7 linked regions of the Homo sapiens genome follow. The protein of the gene in region 5 purifies or fractionates together with the protein of the main gene of each other region. This does not show direct contact. Each region holds a gene or a part of one and is shown on either strand. Other genes may lie near its edges. The genes, in order: TGS1, FAM204A, OSTM1, NCEH1, FAM177A1, STEAP3 and CLCN7.

What was found.
Region 1: the proteins of FAM177A1 (region 5) and TGS1 purify together in Homo sapiens (affinity purification with mass spectrometry; 3 studies listed by BioGRID and IntAct, with this or other methods). This does not show direct contact.
Region 2: the proteins of FAM177A1 (region 5) and FAM204A purify together in Homo sapiens (affinity purification with mass spectrometry; 3 studies listed by BioGRID and IntAct, with this or other methods). This does not show direct contact.
Region 3: the proteins of FAM177A1 (region 5) and OSTM1 purify together in Homo sapiens (affinity purification with mass spectrometry; 2 studies listed by BioGRID and IntAct, with this or other methods). This does not show direct contact.
Region 4: the proteins of FAM177A1 (region 5) and NCEH1 purify together in Homo sapiens (affinity purification with mass spectrometry; 2 studies listed by BioGRID and IntAct, with this or other methods). This does not show direct contact.
Region 6: the proteins of FAM177A1 (region 5) and STEAP3 purify together in Homo sapiens (affinity purification with mass spectrometry; 3 studies listed by BioGRID and IntAct, with this or other methods). This does not show direct contact.
Region 7: the proteins of FAM177A1 (region 5) and CLCN7 purify together in Homo sapiens (affinity purification with mass spectrometry; 3 studies listed by BioGRID and IntAct, with this or other methods). This does not show direct contact.

Annotation. Positions count from the first base shown.
Region 1 is NC_000008.11:55,800,946-55,804,445, forward strand, and holds part of TGS1 (trimethylguanosine synthase), read left to right. Parts: intron 1-1,511; coding exon 1,512-1,661; intron 1,662-3,500. UniProt on the Homo sapiens protein: Catalyzes the 2 serial methylation steps for the conversion of the 7-monomethylguanosine (m(7)G) caps of snRNAs and snoRNAs to a 2,2,7-trimethylguanosine (m(2,2,7)G) cap structure.
Region 2 is NC_000010.11:118,325,325-118,328,824, reverse strand, and holds part of FAM204A (protein FAM204A), read left to right. Parts: intron 1-2,581; coding exon 2,582-2,671; intron 2,672-3,500.
Region 3 is NC_000006.12:108,054,242-108,057,741, forward strand, and holds part of OSTM1 (osteopetrosis-associated transmembrane protein 1 precursor), read right to left. Parts: intron 347-3,500; coding exon 249-346; intron 1-248. UniProt on the Homo sapiens protein: Required for osteoclast and melanocyte maturation and function.
Region 4 is NC_000003.12:172,645,068-172,648,567, reverse strand, and holds part of NCEH1 (neutral cholesterol ester hydrolase 1), read left to right. Parts: intron 1-453; coding exon 454-682; coding exon of another isoform or gene 683-706; intron 707-2,875; coding exon 2,876-2,945; intron 2,946-3,500.
Region 5 is NC_000014.9:35,049,272-35,052,771, forward strand, and holds part of FAM177A1 (protein FAM177A1 isoform 1 precursor), read left to right. Parts: intron 1-3,500.
Region 6 is NC_000002.12:119,226,834-119,230,333, forward strand, and holds part of STEAP3 (metalloreductase STEAP3), read left to right. Parts: intron 1-3,500.
Region 7 is NC_000016.10:1,465,029-1,468,528, reverse strand, and holds part of CLCN7 (H(+)/Cl(-) exchange transporter 7), read left to right. Parts: intron 1-3,190; coding exon 3,191-3,262; intron 3,263-3,500. UniProt on the Homo sapiens protein: Slowly voltage-gated channel mediating the exchange of chloride ions against protons. Functions as antiporter and contributes to the acidification of the lysosome lumen and may be involved in maintaining lysosomal pH.

The sequences.
Region 1 (3,500 bases), on a different chromosome or scaffold from region 5:
GCTGAAGACTGAAACCAAATAACCAAACTGATAAAAATTATTTAAGGAAAAAATCACTCTCTGAATGAATGAGATCCTTTTCCGTGGAATGGAGCTAGTGACCCTTGTTTCAGTTTCTCAGATGCCATGTGACTTCAATGTGGCTGACAGCTAGAGCCTAATCTAGTCCTTGATAGAAAGGAAATGTTTAGATTTCTATAATTCACCACATAAAGCAGTGTCTTGGCTAACAGAAGTAATAACTTTTATGTCTATAGCAGTATTTCTACATATGTCCTGTCACTGCTGTGAATTAAGTTAGTAAAACACCACTCACTAACTCATTCATTCATTCTTTATTTTTTAGACAGAGTCTTGCTCTGTTGCCCAGGCTGGAGTGCAATGGCGCATTCTCAGCTCACTGCAACCTCCGCCTCCCAGGTTCAAGCGATTCTTCTGCCTGAGCCTCCCGAGTAGCTGGGATTAGAGGCACCTGCCACCGTGCCCAGCTAATTTTTGTATTTTTTTTTAGTAGAGATGGGGTTTCACCATGTTGGTCAGGCTGATCTTGAACTCCTGACCTCAGTGATCCACCTGCCTCAGGCTCCCAAAGTGCTGGGATTATAGGCATGAACCACTGCGCCCAGCCCCATCGTTCTTTTTTTTTTTTTTTTTTTTTTTTGAGACAGAGTCTTGCTCTGTTGCCCAGGCTGGAGTGCAGTGGTGCAATCTCAGCTCACTGCAAGCTCCGCCTCCCGGGTTCACGCCATTCTTCTGTCTCAGCCTCCCAAGTAGCTGGGATTACAGGCACCTACCACCACGCCTAGCTGATTTTTGCATTTTTAGTAGAGATGGGATTTCACCATGTTGGTCAGGCTTGTCTTGAACTTCTGACCTGCCTCAGCCTCCCAAAGTGCTGGGATTACAGGTGTGAGCCACCTCGCTCAGCCCACTCATTCCTTTTATAGGAATTAATAATTGGAGTTTAGGCCAGGCACAGTGGCTCATGCCTGTAATCCCAGCACTTTGGGAGGCCAAGGCGGGTGGATCACAAGCTCGGGAGATCAAGACCATCCTGACTAACACGGTGAAACCCCGTCTCTACTAAAATACAAAAAAATTAGCCGGGCGTGGTGACGGGCGCCTGTAGTCCCAGCTACTCGGGAGGCTGAGGCAGGAGAATGGTGTGAACCCGGGAGGCGGAGCTTGCAGTGAGCCAAGATCGTGCCACTGCACTCCAGCATGGGTGACAGAGCCAGACTTCGTCTCTAAATAAATAAATAAATGAATGAATGAATGGAGCTTAAAGACCCTCGGTTACTTTCCCAAGCTTACAAAGCCAATAAGTAGCAAAATGCTGGTGGTGATTGAAGCCAGTGGCGTTTCCATCAGGCTCTCCTGTTTCTCTGGGCGTGTCATTATATACATGTTCTGCTTGTAATTATTTGATGTGGCTTCATTTTTAGATAAACTCACCTGTGATACTAATTTTTTTCTTAGTGAGCATCTATATTCTTTGTATTTTATTTTAGCTGAAGTGAAAAAGAAGAAGAACAAGAAGAAGAACAAAAAGGTGAATGGTCTGCCTCCTGAAATAGCTGCTGTTCCTGAGCTGGCAAAATACTGGGCCCAGAGGTACAGGCTCTTCTCCCGTTTTGATGATGGGATTAAGTTGGACAGAGGTAAAGTATATATGTATTTTTTAGCTTTATTTTGAAACCACTTCAAACTTAAAAAGAAAGTTATAAGAATAATACAGGGAATGTTCATATCCCCTTTACCCAGATTCAGCTATTTTCAACATTTTGCCCCGTTTACGTTCTCATTCTCTCTCCATATGTATGTGTGTGTATCTTTTTCTGATCAGTACTTAACACACATCATGCTCATACTTCTTAATACTTTAGTGTATATTTGCTAAGGACAAGTATATTTTTGTTTAAAATAGTGAATTATCAACTTAACATTGTTCCAATATTTTAATCTACAGTTTATACTCTAATTTCATTAATTGTCCTAATCTTGTCCTTTATCACGTTTTTTTTTTCCTTCCAGTATAGGATCATGTATCATTGCGTTTATTTTTCAAGTTCTTTAGTTGCCTTTAATGTGGAATGTTTCCTTAGCCTTTTTTGTCTTTCATGACTGACATTTTTCAAAGGATCAATGGCCATTTATTTTATAGGATGCCCTTCAATTTGGGGGGGTGTGTGTGTGTGTGTGTGTATTTTTAAAATTTCAGACTTGGGTTTAATCTGTATTTGTAGCACGTTAGGATAGATAGCAAAAGCAATTGATAAATTATTAAACAGAAAACCTGATGAAGAAATATCTAGTGCAGAAGGATACAATTTAATGAATTAACTTCGCAAATTTTGAATTCTTTCTCCAGCTTTCCTGCTGTGATCTGCAACAGCTTACTTAACTCAGTCTTGCAGACTGATGCTCGTTTTCATATTGGGGTTACCTAAATATTGGTTTTTATTAACTATCAAAATCAGAAGTTCTTGATCTATGATGGAATTTCAGGGGTTCTCTGACCCTTTTAAAACAATTTGCAAAATGCTGTGTATTGGAAAAAGTACGTAGGAATTTGTAAGGAGAAATAAGGCTGGAAAACACTTGCAATTCTATAAAAGTGTATATTCTTATTTTTCCAGTATTGAAGAGCCATTTAAAGTTTTGGTAAGGGGAGACAACAGGAAAATTAACGCACATTATTTTTATTTATTTATTTTTCTTTTCTTTTCTTTTTATTTTTTCTTTTCTTTTTTTTTTTATTTTTTTTAGACAGGGTCTCACTCTGTCACCCACGCTGGAGTACAGTGGCACAATCTTGGCTCAGCAACCTCCACCTCCCAGGCTAAAGCAATCCTTATGCCTCCGCCTCCTAAGTAGCTGGGATTACAAGCAAGCACTACCATGCTTGGCTAATGTTTTGTAGAGACAGGGTTTTGCCATGTTGCCCAGGCTGCTCTCAAACTCCTGTGCTCAAGTGATCCACCACGCCCAGCCCAGCACATCATTTTGTTCAGATAATTGTCTTTCTGAAAAATGTAAATTTTTTCTACTAGGAAAGAAGGAGGTCAGTATTCTCTTTACTCTAGAGTGGACACAGGACCTCATTTCTGACAATGATGAGGGCTCTGCTATTCCTCCTGTACTTCTGCAACCCTATGGCCTTTTGCCATCCAGTTCCTTGCTTTTTCCGACCCTTTAAAAGCATGCAGTTTTGGCCAGGCATGGTGGCTCATGCCTGTAATCCCAGCACTTTGGGAGGCTGAGGCAGGCAAATCACTTGAGGCCAGGAGTTCAAGACCAGCCTGGCTAACATGGCAAAACTCTGTCTCTCCTAAAAATACAAAAATTGGCTGGGCATGGTAGCGTGTGCCTGTAGTCCCAACTACTCAGGAGGCTGAAGCATGAGAATTGCTTGAACCCAGGAGGCGGAAGTTGCAATGAGCCAAGATCATGCCGTTGCACTCCAGCCTGGGCAACAGAGCAAGACACTGTCTCCAAAA
Region 2 (3,500 bases), on a different chromosome or scaffold from region 5:
AGGAGATAGTGGGTAGTTTTAAGAATGAGGACATGGCCAGGTGTGGTGGCTCATGCCTGTAATCCCAGCACTTTGGGAGGCCGAGGCAGGCAGATCACGAGGTCAGGAGATTGAGACCATCCTGGCCAGCATGGTGAAACCATGTCTATACTAAAATACAAAAAATTAGCTGGGCATGGTGGCACACGCCTGTAGTCCCAGCTACTTGGGAGGCTGAGGCAGGGGAATCGCTTGAACCCAGGAGGTGGAGGTTGCAGTGAGCTGAGATTGCGCCACTGCACTCCAGCCTGGCGACAGAGTAAGACCGTGTCACCAAAAAAAAAAAAAAAACAGTTGACATATATTTCAGCATGCATCAGAATCATATGGATTGCTGGGCCGCCAGCCTAGAGTTTTTCCACAGAATTTGCATTTCCAGCAAGTTTCCAGGTAATGTTGATACTGCTAGTCCAGCACTTAAACTTTGAGAACCACTGGCTTAGAGTTTAGTTGATAATGGTAATTGTGGGTTGCAAGTTAGAGAGGGAGAAGGAGTATCTAAGAAGGGACTGAAGGACCGTGCCAGGGAATGAGGTTCCAGTAAAGGCAAAGCAGATGAATTAGGTAGAAAGACTTGGGGTGAGTGGAAGAATTGTATCAGGGAGTAGAATTCTAGATTATGAAGTTGTGGAGGCGGAACTTTCAGGCAATGTCTATAACATGACATACAGCAGTCTTACTCCAAGTGCATTGATATACAAAGAGATAAGGAGTGTGTGCCTGAATGTAACTCAGTGTACTACTTTCCTTATGGAGAAATTCTTGTCCCCGACTACCCCCAGCAAAAGCCATCTGGACAAAACTGTTTTGTTGTTGTTTTTAAGAGACAGGGTCTTGCTCTGTCACCCAGGTTAAACCGCAGTGGTGTGATTATAGCCCACTTCAGCCTCAAACTCCTGGGCTCAAACAATCCTCTTGTCTCAGCATCCCTAGTAGCTCTGGGACTAAAGGTGTGTGTCAACATGCCGGCCAGTACAAAACTGTGTTTAGTCATGAAGCTGATTTGTATTCTGGCACAAGCTCCTTATCTTTACGTGGACCAAAATAAACAGTTCATGGATTGGCACTGTGTACAGACCAGACCTGGTACACAGGCCATGACTGAAGCAGCACTGGCCTAGAGTATAGATTTCTGAAGTGCATCAAGTTAGAGGTCCCAGGGTGTTGTTTGGACCATCAGGAGAAGAGTTCTGCAGAAATGGAAGAAAGGGATGTTTCTGGAGACTGGTAGATGATCACAGGACAAGAATGAGTGGTGAGCATTAGATCCGTATGGCCTCAGGTCAAAGACTATGAAGCGCTGTTGAATGGTCTCCAGCTACACAGGAAAGCAAGCAGAAAAGTCTGTTGGCCTTGCAGGTATTAAGTACTTAGGTGGGGTCTGTGAGAAGGAATCGTCTTCTCTTAGCAACAGACATCAGTGACAGCGTCACTGGTCTTTATTTCTGTAACCTTTTTAGGCAAATTATGTTGTTATTTTTTACATCTCATCTCAACAAAGGCTACACAGGAACAAAATTCTCTCAGTTGATTGGCATGTTCAAACAATAGACTGATGGAAGAGACATTCTTAGGACTTCTGTTATGAAATAAGGAGGAGAAGTCTGTAAGAGGTAGAGTATTAACTGTGAATGTGGAAGTTAAAGGACTAGATAAGCCATTGTTGGGATAAAATTTGCTTCTAAGAAGCATATATTAGACCATCTTTTAAATTTTTTATTATCTGTAGCAACTATTTTCACAAACTAGAACTCCAGTTATTTAAGTCTAAGCATCTTTTTATAAATGTGTAACGCATTGTACCCTAGTCTGTTTGGTAATCCCATGAAAATATTAATTATGATTTCCTGAAGTATCTTTAGTAAATAAAAACATATACATAAGAAAATAAAATCATTCTTATGTATAATTTTCCTCTGCTGTTTAATATTCAGCCTAATGGTCATAGTCAAAGGCTGTGGAGGCTATTGACTGAAAGTCCTGAGCTATAGGAATGGGCAGTAAGAAAAGGGACAGAAGAAACTTGTGGTTGAGAATGCAGGCTCTGAGCAAACCTGAATTCATGTGATGGCTTTACTACTTACAGACGCTGGCTTTGGCCAAGTTCAGGAGTCTTGGGCTCTGTTTCCTCATCTTTAAAACAGGATAGCATTATTATTCATGGAGTTGTTATAAGAATTAAATGAGCTTTTTTACAGTATTAAGCCCAGAATCTGCCACGTAATAAACACTCCATAATTTTTAGCTATTGTTATCATTAACATTATTGTTGTTATTAAGGGAAAGCATAGGCTTTGATTCACAAAAATCTGGATTTGCGTCTTATTTTTATTAGTTCAAGAAGTTACATGACCTCAGGTAAGCCATTTACTGTCTCAGCCTTCTGGTACTAATGGGAATGGTAGCAGCTACCTTCTGGTGTTATTGTGAGAATTAATGGTCTACTTGTGTAACACATTCAGTATAATTCTGTGACATGGTCTTGGCTAGCAAATGTTTGCTTTCCTTCCAGCCCTTAATTTTAGGTTTCTTTTTTTTCTAGTCAGGCCTTGAAAAGAGGATAGACCAGGCTGTGGAGGAGTGGAATATTGAGAAGGCTGAGGAACTCAGCAACCAGCTAGCTACTCGAGAGGTGAGTCAAAAGGGTTACACATTTTCTGTATTTTCAAATTTTCTAGAATAAATTTGTATTCTTTTTATGATCATTAATAAGTTCAGTATTAAAATATTTCATCTGAGGTTTTCCTTTTTGTCCATTTTCTTCTCTTTTATTCTGTCATTTATTTTGAAATGCTAGGTTTTATTTTGTCTTTAATGTTTTTAAATCATTCTGGTCTAAAACTTGCTAGAAATAATCCATGATTGATACTGAACCTTAGATTTTACCTGGATCAGAGAGGTTTGTTTCAGGTATGATTAAAATGCTAGCTTTCTTTTCCGTTTGCATCTTTAACTCATTTGAACTCTGAGGGCAACTGTGTATTCTAAGGCCACATCCCTGAACCTTTTCTTAACCCTTGGTAAAATGCTTTCTTACTGTTTGCTCAGCACATCCCCCTCAGCCCTAAAGAATTTTGGGTCTTTTTTCTTTTTTTCTATAGTATAAAACTAATAGATATATTGGGTATTCTTTTGCCAAGTACAGAAGGCCACAAGAAGATTCTGAATTATACTCCTGGAGGTGGGGTGTGGGCAAATTCCCCCAGTTGAGAATTAATGTCAATATAGATTAAAGAGCTCATATTGGCATGTGTTTTGTTATTATTGTTGTTGCTTTGTAATTCCTTTTTTTCCTTTCTAGGAAAAAATCTCCACCATAGTCTTTTTTTTTAGTGCCTTGATCCTTCCCTCCTTCACCTCAGACTTTAACTACTCCATAGTGTTTCGTTACGTAGAGAGCATCATGGGTTATCTGGGTAAATTACTGGCCACACTCACTATTCTGACTTGCAGGTGGACTT
Region 3 (3,500 bases), on a different chromosome or scaffold from region 5:
AGATTCTCATTACAAAATACTTTAAGATAGGCAGGATAGATATTATCTCCATTTTACAATGAGAGAACTGAGGTTTTCATGATTTGTAAGTAGAAGAACTTACTTAAGAGCAGAAATCCAGGTCCACTAACTCCTTTACATCATGAATTTAGATAAATATCAATAATTAGTGCTCTAAAAACTTGGAACTGCACATTATTCCTTTGTACAAGGCAGCATTTTAATTTTAAATATTATATATAAAATACCTGAAGGTTATGTTCAAAGCAGGTCAGGGTGTGATTAAATAGATTAAGGAAATATACTGTGCTGTTTGATAATTCTTCACTGTTGTTTGTTAAACAATCTGTCAAAAAAATTCAAAAAGTATATTAATATAACTCAAGGAACAATTCTATGTTGTCATTTATATCTTAAGCTATCAGCTTCGTTTCACACTACAGTAATTCTTTATTCAAACAAGCATGAATTTTCCAAATATATGAAGCTTACTCCTTTTATTTTCCAAAAGTTAAAAAAGTCATAACCATTTTCATGAACATGTTAAAATAATCACATACTCTCTTTTCATAAAAATATACCAAATAAAATTCAAATGGACTTTTGATGGCACAAGGTCATAATCACGGAATATCAGCTATCAAATGCTGCCTTAACAGTGCTATTTAGGCATAAGACTGTTTACCCTGCATTAATTTTACCGAAACTCATATGCCTTATCATTTTTTGTGTCAAATTTCATAGTTCTCTGCATCTTCCAACTTCACTAATGAGTCATTTATTGTACCTAATGGGGTAACTTTTAAAATTCGCTCTTTCTAATCCATCACGAGTTGGGAGCCCAGAGAAACAAACTGGTGAGAATTTTGCCTAAAATACTGACGTGGGGGCTTCAAGTAAAGTCTAGAAACAAAATTGTTTTACATTTTTAAAAATCCTACATAAATGGTATTTCTCTGCAACTGGCTATTCTTGCTTAGAGTTAGCTCAAGTTCACTCATCCCTTTTATTTTCTATGTATGTGTATATCACAATTTATGTATCCATTTTCCCTTCTTCAGGGAATAATCTATTCTTCTTTTTTTTTTTAAGAAACGGGGTCTTGCTCGGTTGCCCAGGCTGGAGTGCAGTGGCACAATTTGCCAGCTCATTGCAGACTTGAACTCCTGGGCGCAAGTGATGTTCCCACCTCAACCTTCCAAAGTGCTGGGATTACTTAAAGGCATGAGCCACTGCGCTCAGCCAGGGAACCTAGTCTTTATCCTCAGGTAAACCTTTGTCTTTACCTCTCCTTGTGTTCTCAGCCTGCTATCTCCAATCGAGGTTCAACTGCCTGGTTCCAGATCTTGGAACTTGTGGTCAGTCGTTTCCATCTGACTCTCCTAGAATCCTTGCCCTCTTTATCTTCCACATATTCACAGCCATTTTCATCCCTGGACAGTCCCCATCTACTTTCTGTACTCTCAGTCTGGTTACAGAATACTACTACAGAAATTCTAAAATGATAATGAAGGGACTCAATTCAAATTCATGTGTTCTGATCTCGGGGCAACAAAATGATCCTTGTAGATGCCCTCCTAATTGCTCTGCAAGGGATGTTCCACATATTTTCTCATCTCTAGTCCCAGCCCTACTCTTGTTCCCCTTAATTTCAACAGATGGCTTTGTATTATGCCCACCTTATTTAGAAATTCAGGGCCATCAGATAGGATCTCTCTCAACTGGAAGTGGAAAGACAACATGCAAAGCTATTGCAATTACCCAGGAGAAAGGCAGCAAGGCAAGTAGAATTTGTGGAGAAAAGAGAGACGGACTAGGTAGACACTAGGATATGACACACTAAGGGACATCCATGTACTCTGACAGACAACAATTACTACAACGAAAGTTAACACTTACTAAATACTTGCTATGTTCTAAGAACTATGCTTACACTGCACTTTAAACACATTTGCCCATTTAATTCTTGCAGTGATTCCATGAGGGAAAAATTATCATTATCTCCATTTTATAAATAAGGAACAGAGATAGGTTTAGATAAATTAAGGAAGTTGCCCAAGGACATAAAACTGGTAAGTAAAAAGCTAGACTCTGTACTCAGTCTGATTCTTGAGCCTGCACTCTCAAACACTGCAAAATAAACATATTTATATCTACATTCTAAACCATTAAAAGTTCAAGACTCGGAATCTACAAATACATGCCACTGCCTACTCCCTCCACTACCCATAGATATCTTACACCATACAGGGATTCAGGCAGTCCCCACCAACTGATCAGAGTTAGCAACTGAGATGAAACCTAAACCTGGTAGACAGGGGCAGACAGCACAGTAAAGCTCCTTTGTGCAAATCAGAAAAAGATATTCCCTCTGGGTAGATAAATTACAAAAGGTCATTCCTGCCTCCAGAAGCTAAGCTGGAATTCAGCCCCATTCACCTCCTTGTACAGCCCCCTTGTGCAGGGCTCCTTCTGCACCCATTGTACACAGGATCCTCTTGGTAAACCTATTTCAGGAGTTGTCCCCTCTCTGAACTCACATACTCTACATTCTCTGAAGCTTTATCTTCTCCAGAACATGAATCTCATTCTAACTTCTCACCCTTATTTAAAAAATCTGAGGGATCACTACAAATTAGGAAACTAAGCCACAGAAATAGGTGATATGCTGATGATCATACCACAAGTTAATAAGCCATTGATATAAAAATAGGCCAGCATGGTGGTTCACACCTGTAATCCCAGCATTTTGGGAGGCAGGTGGATTGCCTGAGTCCAGGAGTTCGAGACCAGCCTGGGCAACATGGTGAAAACCTGTCTCTACAAATAATACAAAATTAGCCAGGCATGGTGGCGTGCATCTGTGGTCCCAGCGGCTTGGGAGGCTGAGAGGGGAGAATTGCTTCAGCTTGGGGAGGTCGAGGCTGCAATAAGCTGTGATTGCGCCACTGCATTCCAACCTGCATGAAAGAGTAAGAACTTGTCTCATTGCCCCTCTTAATGCTAGTTTAATATCATCATGAAGTAGCCCGCAATCCTTTTAGGGATGAGGCAGAGTTGATATAAATAAAAACAAACAATTACATAGTTTTTGTACATGTTTACAAAAACAATTATATAGTTTTTGTAGTTGATGTGTTGCAGGGAAGTTAAGGGAACACAATTTCATTCACAACAGTTGTACATCTGTGTTATAATGAGCTATGTCGTGACAACTGACATAACAATATAGGGATAAAAGGGGTCCACATACTGCCAGCAAAAGTAGTATAAAGTGCATTATCATGAGAGAGCAATAGCAAATTTCTTCTATGCAAGATACCTAATTAAAACAAATAATTTCTTTTGCAAAAGCAATTTATAAAGAAAGCTTCTCTGAAGAACAAAAGAACTTAATTTCTTTTATTAATAATTACATTAATGCATTACCATCAAAACTTTTTCAATGATCATTAGATGGTGGTAACATAAAGCATAAAGCAGTTCATTTATATAATGGG
Region 4 (3,500 bases), on a different chromosome or scaffold from region 5:
TTACAAAGGAATTTAAAGAAATTAAAGTAAATAGAACATTTTCCTCTTTTATTTGCATTGAAATAAAGTATTATTTCTTTACTCCTAGTATGTTATTGGAACTGTGATATACTTATTTAGAAAAAAAAGGTACTGAATCCTGGAATTCAAACCTAATCTTAGGTTTGAGTCCCAGAACTACCACTTATCCAATGAAATGAACAAGCATAGTTATTGTTTAAGCCTTCTCAATAAAATGGGACTGATGATACCTGAGGAGATCTCATGTATGAAAATATTTTGTCCAAAAGCAAAAGGTAAATACAATTGGTTTTTGTATTAAAAGGGCTCAATGAGCCCTCCAGTCCAGTGGCAGCTGCTTGTAGGAATTCAGACACTCAGTTGGTGAGGGCAGCTCTGGTGATGCCAAGTTGACGTGCGCCCTCCCTCTTTATTTCCTCCCTCGCCCTGCAGAGTAACCTGATCCACTACCTGGGACTGAGCCATCACCTGCTGGCACTGAATTTTATCATTGTTTCTTTTGGCAAAAAAAGCGCGTGGTCTTCTGCCCAAGTGAAGGTGACCGACACAGACTTTGATGGTGTGGAAGTCAGAGTGTTTGAAGGCCCTCCGAAGCCCGAAGAGCCACTGAAACGCAGCGTCGTTTATATCCACGGAGGAGGCTGGGCCTTGGCAAGTGCAAGTGCGTCCTGGTCACCTTCAGATGGTTTGTTGTTGTGGTTGGCCTTGGGGGAGATGCGTAACTGAGTTTGGCTTTCTTAGTGGGAAAGAAGGGGACCATTTATCTAGGTTCCCCTGGATGGTCCCAGTTACCCCTGTTGTCCCAGCAAAATTATGACTAGTGCCCCCTTTTCACTCTCAAAAGGGTCCTGGTTTGGGTGATAAATTAAATGGTTATCCTTTGTAAAGGTTTTTTGCTTGTTAGTTTGTTTGTCAATTCAGGTAGACTGTTGTAAAAATATTTCCTATGATCTAAATCACAGACTAACTTATTGTGCAGTGCTGATACAGCTTTCTGCACCAAAACAAGGTGAAGTTTCACCAGGCACGCATATGGGGAATTATCTGTGCTTCTTTTGCCAACTTGTGTTTTGAAGATATATTTCTATGAAATAGACCAGGTATTCCTTAATACACATGTTAACATTTTATCTGCTTATGAAAGCAAAGGTAAAAATATATGCAACCATTCAAAGGAAACAATCTTGCAAAGTTCAAGAATATTTTCTTTAGATTTGGATGATTTTTATGAGTAGAACACATTCAAAATGGCAGGCAGCCAAACAGAGCCGCCCAGAAGAGAACCTCCCAAGGCGGAATTCGGGGTCTTGTCTCTGCTAATAAATGATCATGGAGCTACTTCCTCATCTTCAGTCCAGAGCTTTTGGCATCCCCTTAGTTTAAAAGCAATGGCAACTTGTTTTTTTTATTTTATCATTATGTGATTTTTTTTTAAAAGCAACAAAGGTCAAAAGGTTTGACTTTTTCTAGTAATCTTATTTAATTCCATATCCGTTGTTTATTCTTTTATTCAGTGATTTTTTTTCACATTTTCAATAGCTGTTCATGAGTATGTAGGTTTGCCCGAGACCAAGGGGTTTGCTGGGCTGCAGGTCTTTCAGTGCAAAAGCTCAAACAGTTGTGGGCAAGTCTGGACCATTGGTCAGTCTAAGGTGTGCTCGGGTGTAGGGATACAAAAATGAATAAGAAGGAGTTTCTGCCTTAAAAGAGATTGAATCTGTAGCATTGGACGCTTGCCAGGAAAAACATTGTACTGGAGGACAGCAAGTATGGGTGCCAGGAATGGGATGGATTACAAGAGTCAGCCTGGCCTTTTCTGCATAATTTTGACTGATCACTTCTGCCTGAGGAAGAACTTGAGCAGGTGGAGGTAACAGGTGTCTATGTAATTCTTAAGCTTCCGATTCTAAGACTGCCTTGGAAACCCTATAAATAAGGAAATGTTTGGCTCTCAGTTGGCACAATATAGATCTTAATTTACTGAGAGTAACTAAGAATTAAATTCTTACATATTAAATTGGTTCTGTTACTGCAGACCTTTGGAATCCTCTAAGAAATGCTAAGACTTCCTAAAATTCTAGTTTTTTACGTGTTCATTTAAAGAAAATACCATATTCTTCAAATTGATCACTTTACTGAACTGCAGCAAATGAAGTGTTAAAAGAGCAAAATTGTTAAAATTATTATTTTTAGACATAAGATCTCACTCTGTCACCCAGGCCAGAGTACAGTGGCTCTATCACAGCTCATTGTAACCTCAAACTCTTGGGCTCAAGTAATCCCCCTTCCTCAGCCTCCCAAGCAACTGGGACTGCAGGCGTGCACCACTATGCCTGGCTAATTAAAAAAAATTTTTTTATAGAGGCAGCATCTGGCTATGTTGCTCAGGCTGGTCTCAAACTTCTGACCTCAAATGATCTCCTTCCTTAGCCTCCTGAAGTGCTGAGATTACAGGCATGAGCCACCACTCCCAGCCTAAAATTGCATGATTCTAAGGAAGAGACTGCTTATTTGCTGTGATTTTTTTTCCAGAAAGATGTATACATTTGAAGAGCTATAAAATCAGGATTAATTTGGTGCATTTCATATAGTCCGTTATGAAATAAATATTTAGATAGTAATATATTCAAAACTAAACTATGCATTTCCTGTTATATAGTAGTTGCATGTTATTAGAAATCAGATTTAATTTTTCATGTGTACATGTAACTCTATTATTTGTTCACATTTGCTTTTTATTATTTGTTTTTAGTATTAGCTCCAAGCCTAAAAACAATTCACACTTAGCAGAATTTATGAGTGGACAGTATTAAATGACCTGTTTTGTAATGATTGTTCCCTTTGTGTCTTTTAGAAATCAGGTATTATGATGAGCTGTGTACAGCAATGGCTGAGGAATTGAATGCTGTCATTGTTTCCATTGAGTAAGTAATTAATGCTAGTCATAGAAAATTTTTCTTATAAAGGAATTCTAGATAACAGTCTGGTTACTTTGTTTTACAAGTGATAAAGTAAAAAATAAAGGTCTCAAGTTGGCAAAGAGATATGCCCAAAGTCACACTCAGCATAATCAGAAAAATGATTTCTGATGTAACAAAATTTATTGAACTAGCTTTATAACACTTCAAATTACCTTTTCACCGTTAGTTTTGAAAACTGAAAAAAGGATTAACTAAAAACCTAGAGAAGTATGCAATCAGTTACCTGCAACATATAACTTTTTAAATCTAAAAAGTAGTAAGGATTTTAAGAGAATCTCTTCTACAGCTGAGAGTTGAAAAAGTTGCTCTCTTAGAGTCAGGTTCTATGACTTGTGCCTTGGGAACAGAAATACGTGTTCAACAAATTTTAATGGTGTGGTTAGTAGTAATAGTAGTAATATTAATATTTTGGGTTGTCTCTGTCAGTTCTGTATAAGCCACTTTTCTGGGCAACTAAGAAGAATGTGAATAATAATTATAATAATTTTGATGATAATA
Region 5 (3,500 bases):
TAAAATTTCAGTACCACTCAGTGATTGATTTATTTGGTACCTCTGTTACCAAGCACTTACTATGTGCCAGGAACTCTAGGCTGAAAGATATAGCAGTACCTACCCCCATGTTGCTAATAGCCTAGTTGGGGAAGATGACAAAGAATAAATTCTAAGTCTAGTATGTGTTTTAAAGAAGTCTGGGTGCCATGGGAGTATATACAAAAAATTGCCATTAAAACCAGATCCTGAGCTGGGCAGAGTGGCTCACACCTATAATCCCAGCACTTTGGAAGGCTGAGGCCAGTGGATCACTTGAGGTCAGGAGTTCGAGACCAGCCTGGCCAACGTGATGAAACCCTCATCTCTACTAAAAATAGAAAAATTAGCTGGGCATTATGGCTCACGCCTGTAGTCCCAGCTACTCGGGAGGCTGAGGCAGGAGAATCGCTGAAACCCAGGAGGTAGAGGTTGCAGTGAGCCAAGATCGCACCACTGCATTCCAGCCTGGATGACAGAGCAAGACTCCTTTTCAAAAAAGAAAAAAACAGATCCTGAGAATAAAGATAAGCACATTTATAGTTTGGTTAACTATAAAATGGAGTAAAATGTTAATTGACATGGTACCTCATAATTTCCTGGTGTTATGAAACTATCTTTCAGATCTTTGGGGTTCGTTATGGAATTTGCATAATTGGCAGTGAAATTTTTCTTACTTGCAGATTTATAAAATGAAGCATTTGGAAAATTCACAGTGTAACTTTTTTTGTTTTTTGAGACAGAATCTCACTCTGTTGCCCAGGCTGAAGTTCATGGCGCGATCTCGGCTCGCTGCAACCTCCACCTCCCGGGTTCAAGCAATTCTCCTGCCTCAGCCTCCTGTGTAGCTGGGATTATAGGCACGCTCCACCGCGCCTGGCTAATTTTTGTATTTTTTTAGTAGAGGTGGGATTTCACCATGTTAGCCAGGGTGGTCTCACACCCTTGACCTCAAGTTGTCTGCCCGCCTCAGTCTCCCAAAGTGCTGGGGTTACAAGCATGAGCCACCATGCCCAGCCACAGTGTAAATTTTATTTGTAATTATTGGATTTCTGGTTCAAGTTGATGTTTGAAAAATAAAAAAAGAAAAATATTTTAAAAATATAATTATTGGGAATTTTGTATCAAATGATTTTCTGGTTGGTTTTACCTGTTAGTGCTTCCTTCATTGCCCCCCACCCCGCCTCCCAAATAGAGGTTGGAATCATTATCCCTCATCTGAAATACTCTAAAATCTGAAGCTTTTTGAGCACTGACATTCCTTCCTTTGCCTGTGTCATAGAAGGAAAAAATTAAGCCAATGAGAGATTGCTAGAGGTAGCAGTGAGAAGCCTCTACTGTCTTGGGGGTGGGATAGGGTGGGGCATGGTGGTATACTGTGAAGGATCTGAGCTCTCTATTCACTGACTGGAGCTGTTGCATTGACATTAGATCCATCCAGTTAGTAGGATGACTGGAGATCTAACTTAGCTCATCTGTCTTTCCTTTGCATAGGAAATTAAGGGATCCAAAAAGCTGAGTCATGGTCCAAAAGGAAACGTTGATGTCAGGACAGCCATAGCCAAATTTTATCTCAAGGGTAAACATGAGACTGGGTAGGGATGGCTGTCAGTGCCTGGGGATTGGTGGGGCTTGGGGGTAGGTAGAAGAAAAGTGTCCTGGGTTAACTACTTGTTTATTTTTTTCATGGACACAATAAATGACCTGATCTTTCCTTGTTAAGGGCTGGGATTTATTTGAACCCTCAGGACAGGCTAGAAAGAATTGTGACTTTTTTTCATGTTAATACATAGGTAGCCTATGTTACCAAATTTTATTTTTTAAGATAGTTTATTATTTTTATTTTTTGAGATGGAGTCTCGCTGTGTGACCCAGACTGGAGTGCAGTGGCACGATCTCAGCTCACTGCAACCGCCACCTCCCGGGTTTAAGTGATTCTCATTCCTCAGCTTCCCGAGTAGCTGGGACTACAGGTGCGTGCCACCACGCCCAGCTAATTTTTGTTTTTTTAGTGGAGACAGGGTTTCACCATGTTGGCCGGGCTGGTCTCCAACTCCTGACATCAGGTTATCTTGCCTTGGCCCCCCAAATTGCTGCCATTATAGGCCTGAGCCACAGCACCCAGCCTTATTTTTATTTTTTTGAGACAGTCTGGCTCTGTTGCCCAGGCTTGAGTGCAGTGGTGCGATCTCGGCTCACTGCAACATCCACCTCCTGGGTTCAAGTGATTCTCATGCCTCAGCCTCCCAAGTAGCTGAAATTACATACGTGTACCACCATGCCTAGCTGATTTTTGTATTTTTAGTAAAGTTGGGGTTTTGCCATGTTGGCCAGCCTGGTCTCGAACTCCTCACCTCATGTGATCCTCCTGCCTCAGCCTCCCAAAGTGCTAGGATTACAGGTATGAGCCACCACGGCTGGCCTGTTACCAAATTTTCATGATCTGCAGTTCAAATCCTGGCTAATGACTAAACTTACCTTTGGGAGGTAAAAGGCAGAGAAGAATCATATCTGTTTTCTAAGAAGGACCTTAGAAGATTAAGATGAAACAATGTATAAAAACAAAGTAGCTTATACTTGCATAACTGGGCAGTTCACTGTTTTTATCAGTATAATCCTTTTTTTGCAATAGCAATTCAAAGAGCTTTTCCAGTGGTTGAACAGCAGTCATGGGTTTAAATTATGTTTGCTTATAACCACAAGAATCTTTATAGAGAACAAAATGTTTGTACTCTGGACTATCCTAGAGAATTCTACGAACATAGACTGTAATCATGACATTACTGTAGTCCTGTATATGCAAAAAGAATAAAAGCCCTCCTTTGACTACTCCCTTGCCTTCTGCTTCTCCCCCATCTTAGTTTCTACCCATGGGGTAACCACTGTTGCCAGATTTTTCTTCACAATTGTATGTACTGTACCTTTTTGAAATCTGGAAGTTTAAACTTCAGGCAGTTTTCTTTTTTTTTTTCCGAGATGGAGTCTTGCTCTGTTGCCCAGACTGGAGTGCAGTGGCGCGCCTTCCAGGTTCATGCCATTCTTCTGCCTCAGCCTCCCGAGTAGTTGGGACTACAGGCACCCGCTGCTGCGCCCAGCTAATTTTTTATATTTTTAGTAGAGACAGGGTTTCACCGTGGTCTCGATCTCCTGACCTTGTGATCCGCCTGCCTCGGCCTCCCAAAATGCTGGGATTACAGGTATGAGCCCGCGCCTGGCCCAACTTCAGGCAGTTTTATTAGGAGTTTAAACTTGAGGCAAGAGGACAATGAAAAGAAGCTCTTCACCATCTCCCACTATATATATAGATATATATAGTGTAAATATATAGGAGTAAAATTTGTATTAGAATTCCAGCTCAGGCACAGTGACGTATGCCTGTAATCCTAAAACTTTGGGAGGCTGAAGTGGGAGGATTGCTTAAGGCCAGTAGTTGGAGACCAACCTGGGCAACATAGCCAGACACTGTCCCTATAGAAAAAAAA
Region 6 (3,500 bases), on a different chromosome or scaffold from region 5:
AGCTCATTTGTACCTGGAGACTCTTAGGAGGTCGATAATGTTATTCTCCCAACCATGTGACTTTCCAACTCCATATGGACCCCAACCTCTTTTTTTCCACCCCTAACCTGAGACTCCTAGCCACTAACTAACTGCCACATTCTCCTGTCCAAATTCTGCCTCATCGGTTATTCATTCAACAAACACTTACCGAGCACTAACTTTGAGCCAGGCACTCTAAGACCAGCTGAGTCCCACTTCTGGCAGGATGAGTGTTGTTGTCATCAACCACCCCACAAACACCCGTGCCCTCTGCGTACTTGCGAATCTGAGTGAGGAGACACGGTGGCAGTAAGGCTCAGGACCTATAGCTCATGTGAGTGAGCAAGGATGCAAAACCAAAGACACCCGCTCCCCTCACCCACTGAGCTGGAGGGATCAACCACTGTGCCTGCCATCAGGGCTGATGGGCGACTGCTTGTGGATCACAAACTCTTGCGTTGTCACTTCAACCCAGGGGCAGAGTGTGTTCCTCTTCAGGTGTGGCCTGGTCTCGTGAGCCCTGCACTGAATGGGCCAGGCGTTCATTGCTTCAGCACCGTAAGAACACTGTCACCGGAGAATTGTTCGATACTCAACTCTTCCCAGTCAGTCTGTCTTCTGCATGCCCACAGTTACCGGGCAGCGTGGGCAACAAGTGAGCACTGATTGTTCCGCAATCAGGCTGTGACTTACTCCATCTCTGCCTTCTGCTTAATGAGAGCCAGGTGGGAGTTCAGCAAAGATCACATGTTTAAGCCTTGTTATTAAACACGTTAAAAAAATACTGCCCCAAGATTATAAAGCCGACTTCGGTACATATAAAGAGATTTGGGGTCGGTGAATGGGCCCACTAAGCTTTATTTTGTGGTGTCAGCTGTCTTGGTTCATGTGTAGACAGCAGGGCTCCCAAAGCCAGCATGCTGGGGTCTGTGAGGGAACAAGCTTCCCATTTCTTGTATTTATTTATTTATTTATTTATTTATTTATTTTTTGGAGACAGAATCTCGCTCTGTCACCTAGGTTGGAGTGCAGTGGTGCCATCTTGGCTCACTGCAACCTCTGCCTCCCGATTTCAAGCAATTCTCCTGCTTCAGCCTCCTGAGCAGCTGGGATTACAGGTGTGCTCCACCACACCCAGCTAATTTTTGTATTATTAGTAGAGATGGGGTTTTGCCATGTTGGCCAGGCTGGTTTTGAACTCCTGACCTCAGGTGATCCACCTGCCTCGGCCTCCCAAAGTGCTGGGATTACAGGTGTGAGTCACCACAGCCGGCTGCTTCCCATTTCTATAAGCATCCGACTGGTGGGGTGGCCAGTAGGCTGTGGGGAGTGGTGCGTGATTTTCCTGGTGGGCTTGAGAGAGTAACAGTATACCCCCAGTCAGGGCAAGTGTCTCTCTGAAGGTGAACTCTGGGTGCACAGCTAGAGGATACAGTGGCTGTGAGCTGGGCCCTCCAGGTGAGGTCTGGCCTGCCCATTGCCACAGTGGGCTTGCTGGCATCCAGGGGGGCTTTCTGGGTGACTGCCCAGGCCTGCACATGAGTCAGTAGCACGCTGAATGCAGTGGAGTTTGAGGGGACCCACCACTGTCCATCAAATCGCCCCAACCTGGGTGAAAGGCCAGAGCAGCTGCGGGAAGTGACACCAGGCCCTCTGGAGATGACCCTCTGGCCCTTGGAGATGTCTCTGGACTGGCCAGAAAGAAGGTGGTGCCTGGAACTGGAAGGGAAGGAAGCAAGACAGTGCTGGGCCCAGCAGCCAGAAATCAGGGTGATGGGTGGGTGGAGGGGCAGGCATCTGGGAAAGCCCTGCCCTCCTGGTGTTCCCAGATCTGAAGGCTGGAGGCTGGAAACCTTGTGTCACCTGTGCTGGTGTGAGTTCCATTGGGGCTGCCGCTTACCCTCCCATGACCTTTAACATCTGGCATGGCTTGTGGGGGGTGCTGAGAGGAGGAGAAGTCTCAAGGCTGAGGGAGCTCAGGGTAGAGCCAAGGTCTCAGTGAGAACCCCAGGGGGCAGCTGTCACAGCTGACCTGGAGCCCTCCAGGAACGCGTACTCTCCAGCTCCTGTACTCTCAAAAGCAACAGAAAGGTTTGCTTTCCTCAGGTGCGGTTTCCTCACAGTGCAGCTTCTCCAAAGAGATCTGGAGACCCCCCAGCAGCTTTGACAGGAAAATAGAGTCCTATCCACCCCACACCAACACACTGAAGTAGAGACTCTGGGCCTGGGGCTGCCCAGAAACCCACCCACTTAAACTGCCCGGGCGATTCTGGTGTTCACAAATATTTGAAAGCACTGCCTGACACCTGCTGGCTCAACAGGTGTCCACCTAGGCTGGAGTACAGTGGTGCCATCTCGGCTCACTGCAACCTCTGCCTCCCAATTTCAAGCAATTCTCGTGCCTCAGCCTCCCGAGCAGCTGGGATTACAGGTGTGCTCCACCACACCCAGCTAATTTTTGTATTATTAGTTCACCTAAGCAGAGAGCGATGTGAGGGGCTGTGAGGATGTGCAGGGGTGGAGGGCACTTAGGTCCCTCCCTCAGCTGACCATAGAGCACCCAGAGTGGCAGAGGGGCCACGTGCAGTGAGTGGCCACAGCAGAGCAAGGAAAGGTGCACACAAGAACAGTCCTAAGGAAGACATGTGTTTAGGGGTTTCATATTCACTGTTTAATCATCAGGACAGAGAGGGAAAGCAACCTACCCAACGTCACACAGCTAGCACATGGCTGGACCGGAATTCACACACATCTCTGTCCAGCTAGGTCCCCCAACTAACACAGCTGCCTGTCTGAATTCAAAGCCGGGAGAGATTGTCAGGGGTGGGCGTTGGGGGAGATGGCAGGTGCCTTAAGTGCCCAAGGCCTTGGGCTGGATCTTTAAGGAAGGGGGATTGGGATGGGCCAGGAGGTTGTCAAGATTGGAGATGGAAAGAATGCCATTGGCTGTGGTGGGGGGTGGAGTGGGCAGGGACTGGAAGGAGGGGTAGTGGAAGTCAGTCCCTGCCTACAGGCCTGTGTTAGACTCCGCGGAGATTCAGGAATCTAGCCCTGCCCACAGGGGCTTTCACTCCAGTAGAAGAGAGGAGACCCAGGGGGCCACAGCAGTCAGAGAACAATGAGGCCTTGGCTTGGTGTTTGGTGATGATAGGGGAAACCTGCCCAGAACCTGTTTATCAGATGCTCAGGGATCTGAAAAACAGGTTCTGCATGTGGGCTTGAGATAAAGATGCCCGGGATACTTAGATGTGCCCTATTCCAAGATCGCTAGGTTCCAAACAAGTTGAAAACAATAGAATACACTTATCCCTAAGAATGGGCTTGCACATAATTCACTTCAACAATGCAAAAGCTTCCAAACCTCCAGCCTCCTTTGGGCTGCCGGTGTGGCCTCCAAGGTCCACTGAAAAGCCATCCCCAGCCAGCAGAAACATGCCTGTGTCTTCTTCAGCCCCCGTCCATGCTTTGCCCTGGAGACA
Region 7 (3,500 bases), on a different chromosome or scaffold from region 5:
AATTTATAAGAGCTTGCATTTAAAAAAGAAAGTAACCGCACGGAATGCATTGCTGAACTTGAAGTAAACGTCGTGTTCTTCCATTACGAAAGCCACCTTCTCAAAGTCCTGGCAGAGTTAAGGAAAGAGATGCTGGGAAGGCAAGGCGCCGGAGCCCCATCCTTTCACTCCGGGCAGGGGCAGCTGATGCCCTGCTGGGGGGCAACCCCTCACCCCTCACCCCTCTCGGATCTGCCAAGGCGGCGGCGGTGGGGGTGGCCCGCTGGTCACATACTGCACCGGCAGCCTTCACCTTGGCCTGAATGCATGTGCGGCTCTGCCTGCTGCTGTGGGACAGTGCTGTCGTGGTGTAGACGGTGGCCCTCCTCAAGGCCTCCCAGGCCTGGCGCCCAGGACATGTGACTGTGGCTGTTTTCGTTTTGTTTGGGTTTTTTTTTTTAATTTTAGAGATAGGGTCTTGCCGTGTTGCCCAGGCTGGAGCGCAGTGGTGCAACCATAGCTCACTGTAGCCTCGACTTCCCAGGCTCAAGCGATCCTCTTGCCTCAGCCTCCTGAGTAGTTTGGGCCACAGGTACACGCCACCATGCCTTGCTGATTTTGATTTTTTGTAGAGACAGGGTCTCACTACGTTGTCCAGGTTGGCTTTGAACTCCTGGGCTCAAGCGATCCTCCTGCCTGAGCCTCCCAAAGTGCTGGGATTACAGGCGTGAGCCACCACGTCCGGCCAGAATGATCCGTTATTTCCAGCAAGGAATAGCCTGAGAAGCACGGCAGGCCTTGAGTGGCGTTAGAGAGAAGTGCTGACATCTTGAGTGATGGAGAGGGTGGCCCTCTGGGCAGGGTGTGTCCCACAGGGTGCCTGTTTGGACGTGGGGTCCTTCCTCATGGTGAAATGGGTCTTTTGGGTTCCGTGGTCTCTGTTTGGGGCATCGGGGCACCTGTCCACCTGGGAGGTGGGGGTCAGAGGCCCAGCGCTGGTCCCAGGGCTGTTTTCTGGTGGTGAGACCTGGAGTCCAGGGGCTTTGATGTGAGTGTGAGCAAGAGGGAGTGGGCAGCTGGCCAGGCCACTGCTTCCATCATGCCTGGACCGTGGCACCTTCCTCCTCCCACCGTCAGCCCGTGTGGCAGGAGACTCAAGCTGTGAGTTTCGCCTGTGACTGAGGGCTCAGGGAGAGCCACTGGCATGTGGCAAGGCTGGGGGAAGAGGAGGGGCAGGCGCCCTGTGACTCAGGGTTGTGTCCAGCAGGACCTGTGCACTCTAGCCCCTCCCACACTCTCCCCTGGGCGTGGAGATGCCACGGCAGACACCTGCGAGTCTGTCTGTCTGTCTGTCTGGCCTCTGCTCCTGGCTTTTGATGGGGATGGCCTGAGAGTGCTCTTTGCCTGGGGAGAGGAGGAGGCTCTGACTGGTGTCTGCCAAGGGCCAGTGGCACGTGCCCAGGTTCCTTCCCCTGCCAGGGCCACTTACCGGGTCATCAACACGGGGGGTGTACAGCAAGGGCGACGGTGGCTGGTAACAGGACGATGGTTGGGGAAGGGGTCCCTGGAGGGCAGTGGGCTGGAAGGTCAGGTTCTTTTTTTTTTTTTTTTTTTTTTTTTTTTTTTGAGACAGAGTCTTGCTGTTACCTAGGCTGGAGTGCAGTGGTGCGATCTCAGCTCACTGCAGACTCCACCTCCCGGCTTCAAGCGATTCTCCCGCCTTAGCCTCCCAAGTAGCCCGCCTACTTTTTGTATTTTTAGTAGAGATGGGGTTTCGCCATGTTGGCCCAGCTGGTCTCGAACTCCTGGCCTCAAGTGATTTGCCCGCCTCAGCCTCTGAAAGTGCTGGGATTACAGGCATGAGCCACTGTACCCCGCCGGGAAGGTCTGGTTCTGAAGGCAGTTTCTGGGATGGCGGTTTGGGGAGCCCGTCTCCTTCAGGGGTGAGCACTCCAGAGAAAGCAGGACCCCCACCCCTGGCTCGCAGTGACCTCAGATCCCAAACCTTCCTTCTCTGCTTCTGTGTCCTTGCCTGTGTGTGGTAATCGTGATCCCCGTGGATAGGTGGAGGTTGAGGGAAAACTGGGCCCCAGTGCAGGCCGTTCCTGCACGTCTCCCCGTCCCCACCTCGGCCCTGTGGGCTCCTGGCGCCATCACCTGCCGTTCTATCACCAAGAAGCACTTCCAGGCCCTGCTGAAACCTGGTGCGGGAGGCCGAGCCTGAGGAAGGTGGAGGGAGAGATGGGGGGATGAGGAGGGGACGGCGTTGGGGGCCGGGAGGGCTGCTCCCAGGGAAGGCGGGCGGCAGCCTCGTTGGTCTTCCCACGGCCGGTACCAGCCGCTGGACTCCTCCGCCAACACTTTCCTGACAGGCGCACGGGCTCTCTGATGCAGATGGCGGGCGCCCTGCGCATGCGGTCCCTCCACCTGGAAGGCAGCCCTTCTTCCCTTCATGTCCCCAGATGTTGCTAAAGATTCAGGAGATAGTGGAAATTGGAGTCGTCTCCAAAGGATCTCTTTGGGGAAAGGAGGCTGAGGTCTTGGCTCCTCCTAGCCTGGCCTCAGCGCCTTGGCTCTAGTAAGGAGCCGGAGACTGGGGTGGGAGCTCCGTAAGTCACATCTGCACCACGCCACCCAGGGCCCGCTGCCCTGCCCCTGCCCTGAGCTGGGGCGGCCGCAAAGCCTTAGGTGGCTGAGACCCCACCCAGCTCTGCCTGACAGCTGGGCGTCCTGTGGGGAGGGCAGCGTGAACACTGTGGAGCCGTTTGTGTCTCAAGACCCAGAGAGGCTGCAGTGGAGGTGACTCTGTGGAGGTGGCAGGTGGCTGAGCAGGGCCTCGGGAGCAGGGTTGGGCAGGATGGCCCAGGGTGCTGTGGCGGGCACTGCATTGGGGGCGGCGTGTTGTCCAGCCCTTCTTTCCTGGTGGGTGGCAGGTGCCTCGCTTTCAGTCTAGAGCAGGGAGCTTGCGCCCTGGACTCGGGCTGGACGTGTCGCTGACAGGCCGAGGGGCAGCCGGATCAGTTCTGCTTCCAGGGCCCAGGGAGGCCCGTCCCAGCCCTGCTGCCCCCACCCAGCAGGCAGGCCTGGCCTAGCCCATTCCTGAGCTCCCGGGCAGGGTCAGGCGAGGCCAGGGTGCGGCGGCGGGAGTGAGAATCCACGGAGCAGAGCGTGCGACGCCTGAGCGCCCTCATGATTTCTCTTCTGCTTTTAGTCACCACGTTCTGCGCTTTTCCGAGTCGGACATATGAGCAGCGTGGAGCTGGATGATGAACTTTTGGACCCGGTGAGTTGGGGGTGTTCCCCGTCCTCCCGCAGAGCTAGCTGCATCTTAGCAGAGGGTGACAGGGATGGGCACGGGCCGAGCGGCAGGGAGATAGTGGGGCCCCAGGGCCGGGGTTCAGGGAAGATTTCCTTGGGGGGACATGGTCCCTGACGCCAAGTGAGCAGAGGCAGCTGGGCAGAAGTGCTCTCAGACGGAGGAGTGCAGGGCGCAGGAAGCCGGTCAGGACAGCAGTGACAGC